Regions from separate parts of the Homo sapiens genome. Here region 2 is linked to region 1. The links come from fine-mapping of genetic effects on gene expression. A gene starts in region 1. The other region holds a variant in brackets. All regions are shown on one strand. Distances are between the middles of the regions. Region 1 holds the start of CLEC1A (C-type lectin domain family 1 member A). Region 2 holds the start of CLEC7A (C-type lectin domain containing 7A).

Region 1 (5,391 bases):
TCCCTTTCCTTGTCTCCTCACATGTAACCAATCACCGATTATCTAAACTCCAACACCTCGACATCTTTCATATCTGATTCTTTTTCCTTATTTTTACTATACTGCCTCAGTTCAGGTTTTTCTACCCTTGTACTGGACTAGTGGAAAAATTTGGTATCAGCACATGCAGTTTCATATACCTTCAACTTATCATTTCCATTGCAGCCAGGAAGGTCTTTCCAAAATGCAAAATTTTGTTTCTCCCTATCTAAATCCTGCATTGACTTCATTTTAACTATTGAATAGAATTAAACTAGATCAGCATGCCCTAAAATCCCTCCTTAACTTGCCAGACTTACCCCTTTGCTAAGTTTCCCTCCTCCAACTCTACACCTACGCCATACATATTGCTTATAGTTCTCTAAAAATACAAAGCTACTGAAAACCTTCATGACTTTCCCTTCATACGTCTCTCTGTCTATAGTGTCCCCAGCCTCTCAAACACCCTCACTCCCGATTCCTTATTATGTGGAAGATGTTAAAATTAACTCAACTCCACAGTTGCTCCTTCTGTTAAGCCTTTCCTGAACTCCTCTACTTAATTAGGTAAAAATTAAGCCGAGAGCTTGGTTAAGCTCTCGGCTGTACTGTACATGCTTCTGCCATAACACCTTATTATACTTACTCCTTAGTTGAGAATTGTATTAGACTTTCAATTTCCTTATGAACAGGGACCATATCACATTGGACATTATATCCTCAGTACTAGGATAACATGACCCCAAACATAAGTTTGTGAAAAATGTATGAGGTTGTTGTTTTTCATTTTCACTATCTTAATTGTTTGGCATTTTTACTATCTTAATTGTTTGGCATTTTTAAACACAAACATAGTTGTTACGTCAATTGTTATTGACAAAAGTCTAGAAATTAAATGAATGTGTGTGTGATTTATTTTTATTAATTCTAAAAAATAAAAGTTGCCAGCTCTTAATGGTATCACATCATTATGTTGAATCTGAATCCTCCACATTGCCGAAAATTTCTGAGTGATTTCTGCTGTTATTTTTATCAGCGAAGGTATATCAGATATGTTTATCTAAGAAATAATTATACTTCTATGATGGTATTCCCCTAAATGTTTGTATTACCATAAAAAGATGAAAACAAGATCTCATATATGTTGCCTAAGATAACTATTTCCAGATGATTTCTTCCAAGACAATTCTTTGTAATCTCCACTTCTACTGTTTCAATATCCATTTCTTACAAAGAAGCTCCCAGATGTTGCAGCTAGTGTTTTATCTTGCTCCACCTCCCTCTCCACCCTTCAACCTCAGCAGAACTTATTTGTACATGCTGTTCTTAATTATGCTGATCTCTAGTCCTTGACAGAGTTCCTGGCTCCAGTCAAAGGTGGAAAATGAAGTTATATACAAGCTACTCAAAACCACAGCCGTAAAAATGGACTCTTCGTAAGTTTTTTTGGAGGAAAACGCTTTGTATCCTATTACACATATCCTGTGGCTACAAAAGCTGACATCCCTACTTTTGTCACTTAGCTTCATTTCAAAGAGGTTGGAAATCCCCAATGTCCCTTAACAGCTTACTGGGTAGTTTAGTTAAAAAAAAAAAAAGCCATATTAGTAGGTTTCAGGTGGAGGGTCATTTAATAAATAGAAATAAATAGAAAGTGAATGGAGGGTTTAGTAGGAGAAAGGAAGGAAAACTAAAAGTTATTTGATAAAGAAATAAGGAACAGGATAGTTTTTTTTTTTTAAAGGTATATCCAGATTTACAAAGGTGAAGAAAACAATGATATAATCAGAAGGGAAAGGGCATATTAAAACACAGGCACTGAATGAATGTTAAAATGTGGGATTCCTTTCAACATTCCATTTCTTAAGAACCTAAAGTGTTCCTTTCAGCAATTTTGTGTCAGTCTATATCAGATCAGACAGACATTCAAATATTTTACATAATTTATCATTCTCAGTACTCACAACCACCTTGTAAAGGAAGTTTTATTACTTCTATTTAATATTAAGTCAAGTTAATATGAATTAATATACTTAAAGTATTTAAAACACTGCCAGCACATAATGAGCCCTTTATACATGTTTGTGGCCGTTAATATTTTATAAATAAAGAATATGATGCTACCAGGATACTTAAACAACTCATCCAAAGTTACACAGAAGGAAAGTGGCATACCTGGTTTAGGACCTAGAACCTAGTCCTGTGTATATTACCATGTGAGTCCTTTTCACTAGAACTGAAGTCATATTTTAGCTTTAGATTGGCTGAGTGGCCCAGGAAATAAAATCCTTCTCTAAGTGTGGGAATTATGGAACTGAATATAACTGAAAAAAAAAAATCACTACTATGTCACAGGGCGAGTAATTGGAAATAAAATTATAAGATGCAAGCTAAATATCTCCATTTCTAGGAGGGATAGATCATCTCACACATTTCACAAGGACTGTGGTCTATTTGGACTCCAGGAGACAGGGTACCTGTGCGCCGGGGCTCTGGATGCCGAGTTGTGGCAGAGCCTTGAGAATGCAGGCTCATGGTGGTGTCCCCATCATCATCCAGCATGTCCCTCGTGCTGCTGTACTTGGCCTGCATCTGGATTCCTACAGCGGTGAGAGTGAAATGTGGTCGGATTGCCCTGGGCCGCCGGGCTACTGTGAGCTAGTTCAGGAAGCAAGGCACTAAAAGGCATTCCTAATGTTCTTTCCCAGCGAGGGGCAGGGAAAGTCTCTGACTGCAATTCCTGACTGGACAGGCCCAGCCCCTCTCCTGTGAGCTTGTACTCTGAATGCCAAATCAGTCAGGCTGAGGGGAAATAGCATGTGTTTTCTGTTTAGGCCGTCTCAGTCTAAACAGTTGTCAAAAAGTTGGCCTTTCTCAGGTCTTTTTTGTTTACCTGTTTGCATTTCTCATGTAACTTCACTGTAAAGAAGGCAAGAACTTACAATAGCACGGTGTAGCACTGTGGTTCCTTCAGAGTCTGCAGAATAATAATAACTTGGAAGGACACACATCCCTGTTTCTTACCCATCCTTTAGGGAGTCACTTAGTTTAACCTCTCTGTGTCTTTGTGAAAAGAGAAGAGATTATAGGACCTAGCCCCTTCCTTTCTCCAAGAACAGAGTAGTGGTCTTTCTTATAGTATCTGAACTTGATTCAACATTTTATAGCACATTTGGTACATTATGATCACGAGGAATTATACAATTTACTGGAAGTAAAAACTTTTAAAACTATTACTAACCACCATGTGGTTTGGGGAAGCCAGTTCATTTGTGCCTAAATCTCCTAAACTGAGAAGAAAATGTTTTAGGTAATGTGAAAAAATTCTTCCTGAATCAGTACATTAGAATTATATTCCCATCTTAGTCTGTTTGTGCTGACCTACAACAGGATACCTGAGACCAGATAAATTATAAGCAATAGAAATGTATTTCTCAGCATTCCAGAAGGTGGGAAATCTAAGATCAAGGCACTGGCAGGTTTGGATGTCAGGTGAGAGCTGCACTCTCTGTAGAGGAGGAAGGGTATTCTCACGTGGCAGAAAGCAGAAGGTCAAGCCAGCCAAATGCTACATGTAGCGTCTTTTATAAAGGCCTTAATACCATCCTCAAGAGAGAAGACTTCAAGGACTAATCATCTCTTAAAGGCCCCACCTCTCTCAATACTACCACACTGGCAACACCTGAATTCTGCAGGAAACACATTCAAACCATAACAAGACAGGTATCAGTAACAACCTTGTGCCTTTGGGAGGACAATTAACAATTTGCATCTACATTTCCTAAACTGAAAGACAAGAAGATTGTTTTAGATAATGTCTAAAAGTTCTTCCTGAATCTGTACAATAGACTTATATTACTCTACCAAAACTTTTCCAGATGTTAGGTGATAGGTGGGCAAAATCAAGCATGCTAAATATAAAGGAGTGTCAGAATGCTCCAGTTGGGGTAGCCAGACCATATAAAAGATCTATGAGGAAGTGCACATTGTGGATTCACATGTGTTTCAAGCTGTTTGTTGTTCATCAAATTATTCTAAATTTTTTAAAAATTGGAATTTTTTTTTTTTTAGATGGCAGATTGGAGGCAGTGTTAGCATGACTCTACCACTTGGAAGGACAAAATAGTGAGTAAAAAATTCTCACTGTGGGCCAGCCATGGTGGTCACGCCTTTAATCCCAGCACTTTGGGAGGCTGAGGTGGGTGGATCACCTGAGGTCAGGAGTTCGAGACCAGCCTGACCAACATGGCAAAACCCCGTTTCTACTGAAAATATGAAAATTAGCCGGGCGTGGTGGCGGGTGCCTATAATACCAGCTACTGGGGAGGCTGAGGTAGGAGAATCACTTGAATCCGGGAGGCGGAGGTTGCAGTGAGCCAAGATCACACCACTGCACTCCAGCCTGGGCAACAGAGCGAGACTCCATCTGAAAAAAAAAAAAAAAAAAAAAAACCTTCTCACTGTGAACTCTTTTCCCAAGAAGCAACACAGGAACTGAACAGGAAAACTGAAAGAATCCACAGACTCTTTGAAAGAAGCAGCAGGTTATACCTACACCATGAGCTAGGTGAAAAACTGTAAGCTCCCAGGGTGTGTGAGGTGAAGAGACTGGCTCCAGGATACATACCCCCACAGGGGAACCTGAAAGTCCATGCCATGGGGGAAGGCCTTAACCCGTCCCAGCACTGGAACCAATTAAAAGAGCAGTGATGAATATAAAAGTAAGAGCAGCAGCAGGAAGAGGCTTGTGTGCATTCCCAGTCTCCAGCATGAGCCAAGGGAAACTATTCCTTATGCCTCACAGACAACCTCACGGAACTCAGCCAACTAGCTCAGCCAGGGGTTGCACATTGTAAAAACTCCCAACTGAAATTCACAATATAACCTCAAGTGAAATGAACTCCCTTGGCCAGAACCAGAAAGGTGAGTGGGAAATGTGTTGCAGCCGTGAGTGCAGGATCTGGGTGCCAGCTGTGTGGGTGGACAGAGAGGGGCATGGCCTGAACGCCAGCAGTTGCTATCACCACGGGAAAAGTTTATGGCCTCAGGCAGTTGTGAGCTCTGAGTGCAGACTGCCTGGAACTTAGCTCACTGCTGCTAGCAGAGTACTGCAGGAGCCAGATCTGCCTTGCCAACTGTGTGACATCTGGGTTAGGCTTACTGCTGCCTACTACTCCCCACTCCCTGTGCAACCACATCTCCAAAAGGGGCCGCTGCTTGCCATGCACATGGTGACTCAGAGTGCAGACCCACCTAACACAGCCCTCATCTGGCTTTGCCCCTCCACCCACCGTGGTAGCTTAATACAAAGGACAGAAACCCTGGGGAGATTTATAGCCCCATCCATCACCTGAGAAGCCAGACTACCTACCC
Region 2 (5,391 bases), 29 kb after region 1:
AATTTTGGCCAAGTATGGTGGCTTACACCTGTAATCCCAACACTGGGAGATCGAGGTAGGCAGATCGCTTGTGCCCAGGATTTTGAGACCAGCCCAGATGATATGGAGAAACCTCGTCTCTATGAAAAATACAAAAAAACATTAGACGAGTGTGGTGGTGCACCCTGTAGTCCTACCTACTCAGGAAGCTGAGGTGGGAGGATCACTTGAGCCTGGGATGTCGCGGCTTCACTGCACTCTAGCTTGGGCAACAGAGTGAGACTCTGCCTCAAAAAAAAAAAAAAAAAAAGACTTCATTTTAGGAAAAATTGTCATTACCTGGAATCTCCCTCTATCTTCCTTCAGGATACACACCACAGATAATCATAACAGAAGTCTACACTTACCAATTCATTTGAGCTGTCTATCTTTAGGAGATTAGAGCCCAGTTGCCAGCATTGTCTTTTACTTCCATCCCAGGAATTTAGTGACATGCTGAATAGATAACAGCTCTTCTCATATATAATCCAATTAGGAGGACAAGGGCTGGAAAGAACCCCTGGAAATAAAAGATTAGTACCATGAGGTTCATAGCATACCAATTCACTCTTTTAGTGTGAACACCATTCATCTTAAGGACACTTATGAAATAACCAATTAGTTGCCATTTTTATATTTCATTGTCAATTCGAACTACAGGGATATGATTTTACAGATGAGAATACATTAAAATCTTCCTATTCATTTAAAATTTAAAAACAAACTAGCTATAAATAGTATTTTAGGCAGCCAACCATCCTTTTTTTCTTCACTTGTCTTCTATTCCTTCTAATTCAGCTCAAAACTACCTTTCTCCTTAATAACTCCTTAAAATAAGTCCACTCACAATCAGTCATTGAGGTACACAGCAATTTCATATTGCTACTTATTTTATGATGTAAGATCTACTTCATAATGTGACTTTCCAAGTGAGAAAAGTATAGGCCAATTATTCATATTATACACTATCTCTGTTATATATTATTAGCTACTTAATAAAAATAGTGAGAAGGTATGGGTCCAGAGATGAAAAATTGAACTGAAAACATTAAGTCATAGTCAATTATGATGCAATTAGAAGTAAAAGTCAAGTGTGTATAGAATTGTAATTAAGTAAATGAAATTGTATGATTAAACAAATTTGATGAGTTTTCAGGGACATGTGTATTAGGTCTACCTCTTTTGTATATTTTTAATATAGCTTCCTTATTCTTGGCAACATTTTCCCTTCTTTCCTTTCTCCCTGTCATTCTTCCTTTCTAATGTCATATTTCCTATTCTAACTGTATCGCATTTAAAATGTCAATTCTGTAAGGGGAGAGAACACTTTTCTTTTATTTGTATCAAATTATATGATCTCCTGTAGATCTAAGCACATAGCCAGTGATAAATCAGTTACTGATTTTAAAAATTAATAAAGTCCAATTTAGAACTGTCCAGCCAACTGCATAGGGTACTTATAATTTCACCTTATTGTATATATGACAGGGATACATTACACTAAGGTAATACTAATATGTGTATTTGCCTTAAATTTACAATCATTGAATCTAAGTGTTTTTCTTTACACCCCTGCCCCAGGCTTCAGCACCAAGAATTAACCCTCTTGAGTCAAGATTCCGTCCTTTAACTATGCCCTTGCCTGTGGTTTTGACAGCTTTGGTAGGAGTCACACTGTCTTCTAAAGATGATTGTGTGGGTTGACTGTGGTTCTCTTTATTTCTTGATAGAAAGTAGCCATTCTCCAATGTGTTGCTTCCTGAATTGGATCTCCAAATAGCTTCACATACCAACAATAATAATAGTGACAGAAAAAATGTCATTCTGCTGTGTTTGAAAATTAAAATCCCAAAACCCAAATGTTATTGGAATAAAAGAATACATTATTGATTAATGATAAATAGATGATATATTGCTGTGGAGAGATAAAGACGATTGATAGAATAGATGAAAAGAAATACATAACTTTTATAAAGGAGGTATAGTAAAAAAAAAAAAAGAAAAGAAAAAAGAAGGTGGAGAAGAAGAAATAGAATGAGGGAGGCAGCAAGAGGCAAATGTCATAGAGTCAATTGGACCCATGACAGATTTGAAATAGCAACATCTTTCACCTTTCTTCTGTTATTTAAAAATGAGAGATCCTTGAGAAACTGCCCAGTACCTATAACATAGAA[C/T]GCACTCAATAAACATTTGACTAATTAAGGAATGTCATGAAGACTCTCTGAAGGTGACTGACAACAGATTGCATGTGATATAAAATGTAAAAAAAATATTAATCCATTACAAAATATCGACTTAAGACCAAGTGCCTCAGGAAATTTCTGGTGTATTCAAAGGTGTTTATATTAAAGATCGGAAATAATTTCCTTAAATAATGTGAATCATAAAAATAGCTTAATGTCCATTTAGTGAATTTATTTCATTAGGAAGACAGCACCATATTGTACTTTCTTCTTCAGCTCCGCTTGTTTTCTTCATTAATTTATCCTTTGAATTCCACAGCTTTGAAACCAGCTATGTAAGGGAGGTAGGAGAGCAATGTAGTTAAGAGTATGAGTTTTTTAGACAGATCACCCAAATTTCTAATCATGGTCCCACCACTAACTAGCTTATAACCCTGGAAAGGTAAAATAACCTCTCAGTCTCTCACACCCTTTATAAGTGAAATGGGCATTAACAGCACCAACCCAATACAGATAAAACCAGATTATATACAAATTAAAGTAGATTATGCATGTCAAGCCCTTAAAAGAGTGCCTGGCACATAATAATTGCTTACTAAATTGTCTGTTGTTAATCTCCTCCACCAAATACTCACCCATGGTACCCAGGACCACAGCTATCACCAGTATTACCAAGCATAGGATTCCCAAAATTACAGCAATGAGGCGCCAAGGAGGAGATGCAGCACACGATCCTGAGGAGCCAGAGGGGGCAGAAATGGAATAAAGAAAGAGAATGACGGATGGTGGGGCAGTTTAATTCTACAGTTCATCAAAAATCTGGCCTTGCACGGTGGCTCACACCTGTAATCCCAGAAGGGAGACTGAGGTAGGAGGATTGCTTGAGGCCAGAAGCTCAAGACCAGCCTGGGCAACACAGGGAGACCCTGTCCCTACCAAAAAAAAAAAAGAAAAACAAAGAAAGAAAAAAAATTTAATTAGCTGGGCATTGTGGTGAGCTCCCGTAGTCCCAGCTACTCTGGAGGCTGTGGCAGGAGGATCACTTGAGCCTAGGAATTCCAGAGCAGCATAGGCAAAAAAGTGATACCCTGTTAAAACACACACACACACACACACACACACACACACACACACACCACCAACAACAACAACAAAAAATACTGGCAAATTTTTAAGTGAATTATTAATCACTGCCTAGGTTACCTGGTCACCTAGGATTTGCTGTGCTTCTCCACCAGTAAGGATACCTTCTTCTTCAATTGCTGGAATTGTAATTTCGGCACATTGGCTTGATAACTGTATGCTCCTAATTTCAGTTCCACATTGACATCTACAGGTCTTGACATTAGTAGGATCCCTGAAATCCCACTGATTCTTAGAGGAAATAGCTTAATGTTGGGGAGATAGCACTGATTACTAAGGGTAATTTTCCCTTTTCATATGTTTGTTGCATGACCCTGGGCAAATTACTCCCTTTGTTGTTTTTTATTCCTCTTTGTGAAACTGGGGTAATAATATCTCAAAGGATTATTGCGGGAATTAAACGAGCTAACACATATAAAAGCACCTTGTTTAGAGACTGCTAGCACATGATAGGTGTGTTGTTGCAGGATACCGTTTGCCTACACATATGCATAAACATGCGCATGTCTCCCTACCTCTTGCCTCATCCACTTTTTCCACGCTTCCTCAATAGGTTGCCCAAGAAAAGAATTACATCAGTGCTGAGAGGAAAATATTTGTGCAGTGTGAATAACCAGAAAGCAGAAGAAAGCAAACTCTGGTGTCAAAACCGACAAATGATCTCTCTCTCTCAAAGATAATAGGGAACTAATTTTGTATGAACATTGCCATAACCAGAATGTATTTCTGCTTTCCACTGTGACTAAGCTGTCAGGACATTTCATAGAATTGTCACATAGGAGAATCGTAGAGTAGGCTAAATCACCCATTCTATGAATACAGAGATCCTCCAATGCCCTTCTTTCTATTTCATTTCATTTACACTTTGTTTAAGACTCATGTCCTGCTGGTGGGATGTTTTTATCTACCATATGTTCATATATTTTCCATCACTGGTATACCAATAATTGTTTTTTGTTTAAAAACAATTTAAATTAATCTCTTACCACAAAAAAAAAATGTTGTTCATATATATACTTCTTTAAGTTTCCTGGCCTCCATTCGATAATCTAGCCTTTCTATCAAACAAGCAACAAGTCACTCATACAGAAATCCTTTATCTTTGTGTATTATCCCACTTATTACCAATTCCTCACTGATGAAATGTCTATATCTATAGAAAAGAGAAATTCTATTTTCTGCCATCAGACATAATTAATTTAAACACTAATAATTGGTCACTGAATAATTTTCATGAAAAAAGGTTTAGGGTGCATTCAATTTATCTTCAGTGACATCTGAAGCCTTTAAAAGTATATCCATAAAAATATACACATCACGAGGCTCTCAAATTTTCTCCCCTTATATCTTTTTGTTTTGTTTTTATTTTTATTTTTTTTCAGAGATGGAGTCTTGCTCTGCCACCCAGGCTGGAGTGCATTGGCATGATCTTGGCTCACTGCAACCTCCACCTCCCAGGTTCAAGTGATTCTCCTGCCTCAGCCTCCCAAGTACCTGGAACTACAGGCGTGCACCACCATGCCCGGCTAATTTTTGTATTTTTAGTAGAGACAGAGTTTCACCACGTTAGCCAAGCTGGCCTCGAACTCCTGACCTCAGTCAATCCACCCGCCTCGGCCTCCCAAAGTGCTGGGATTACAGGTGTGAGCCACCATGCCTAGCCTCCCCTTATATCTTTTCAAACGGGAGAGCTAAAGGCACACATTAGAAAAAACATATATATACCTTTCTCTGAAACAACAGCTATCCTGGTATTGCTTTGAGAGTCGAAGTGTAATTGAGTATATCCATCTTCATCCAAATTTTCTAAATCAGGATGATATTCCATTGTTCTTGAGAGCCCCTGAATAGATATAGCATTTGGGAGCTCTTTTCTTTCTGCTCCTGAGATGACTGTCTGTGGACAAAAGAGAATCTCTGAGTCAAATCATGTGGGCTAGGTACTTACCGGAGTTTAACAAATTAAGCTTAAGTAGTTCAACCAGATATTCAAGAGCAGGAAATGAAACTATGCTGTGGTAATTTTCCATTTGTACCTTTAGATCCT

Evidence for each region.
Region 2: its variant is fine-mapped to the expression of CLEC1A in whole blood (TOPMed, PIP 0.91).

Annotation. Positions count from the first base shown.
Region 1 is chr12:10,096,313-10,101,703 of GRCh38, forward strand. CLEC1A (C-type lectin domain family 1 member A) reads right to left here and starts at 2,673. Exons shown (of 6, transcript NM_016511.4): 1 at 2,496-2,673. The coding sequence starts at 2,610.
Region 2 is chr12:10,124,911-10,130,301 of GRCh38, forward strand. It overlaps CLEC7A (C-type lectin domain containing 7A), which reads right to left and starts at 5,289. Exons shown (of 6, transcript NM_197947.3): 1 at 5,070-5,289; 2 at 2,837-2,935; 3 at 1,661-1,798; 4 at 387-538. The coding sequence starts at 5,172. The region is part of intron 1 of LOC105369655 (a long non-coding RNA gene); the gene reads left to right. The variant C/T (reference allele first, on the strand shown) is at 2,193.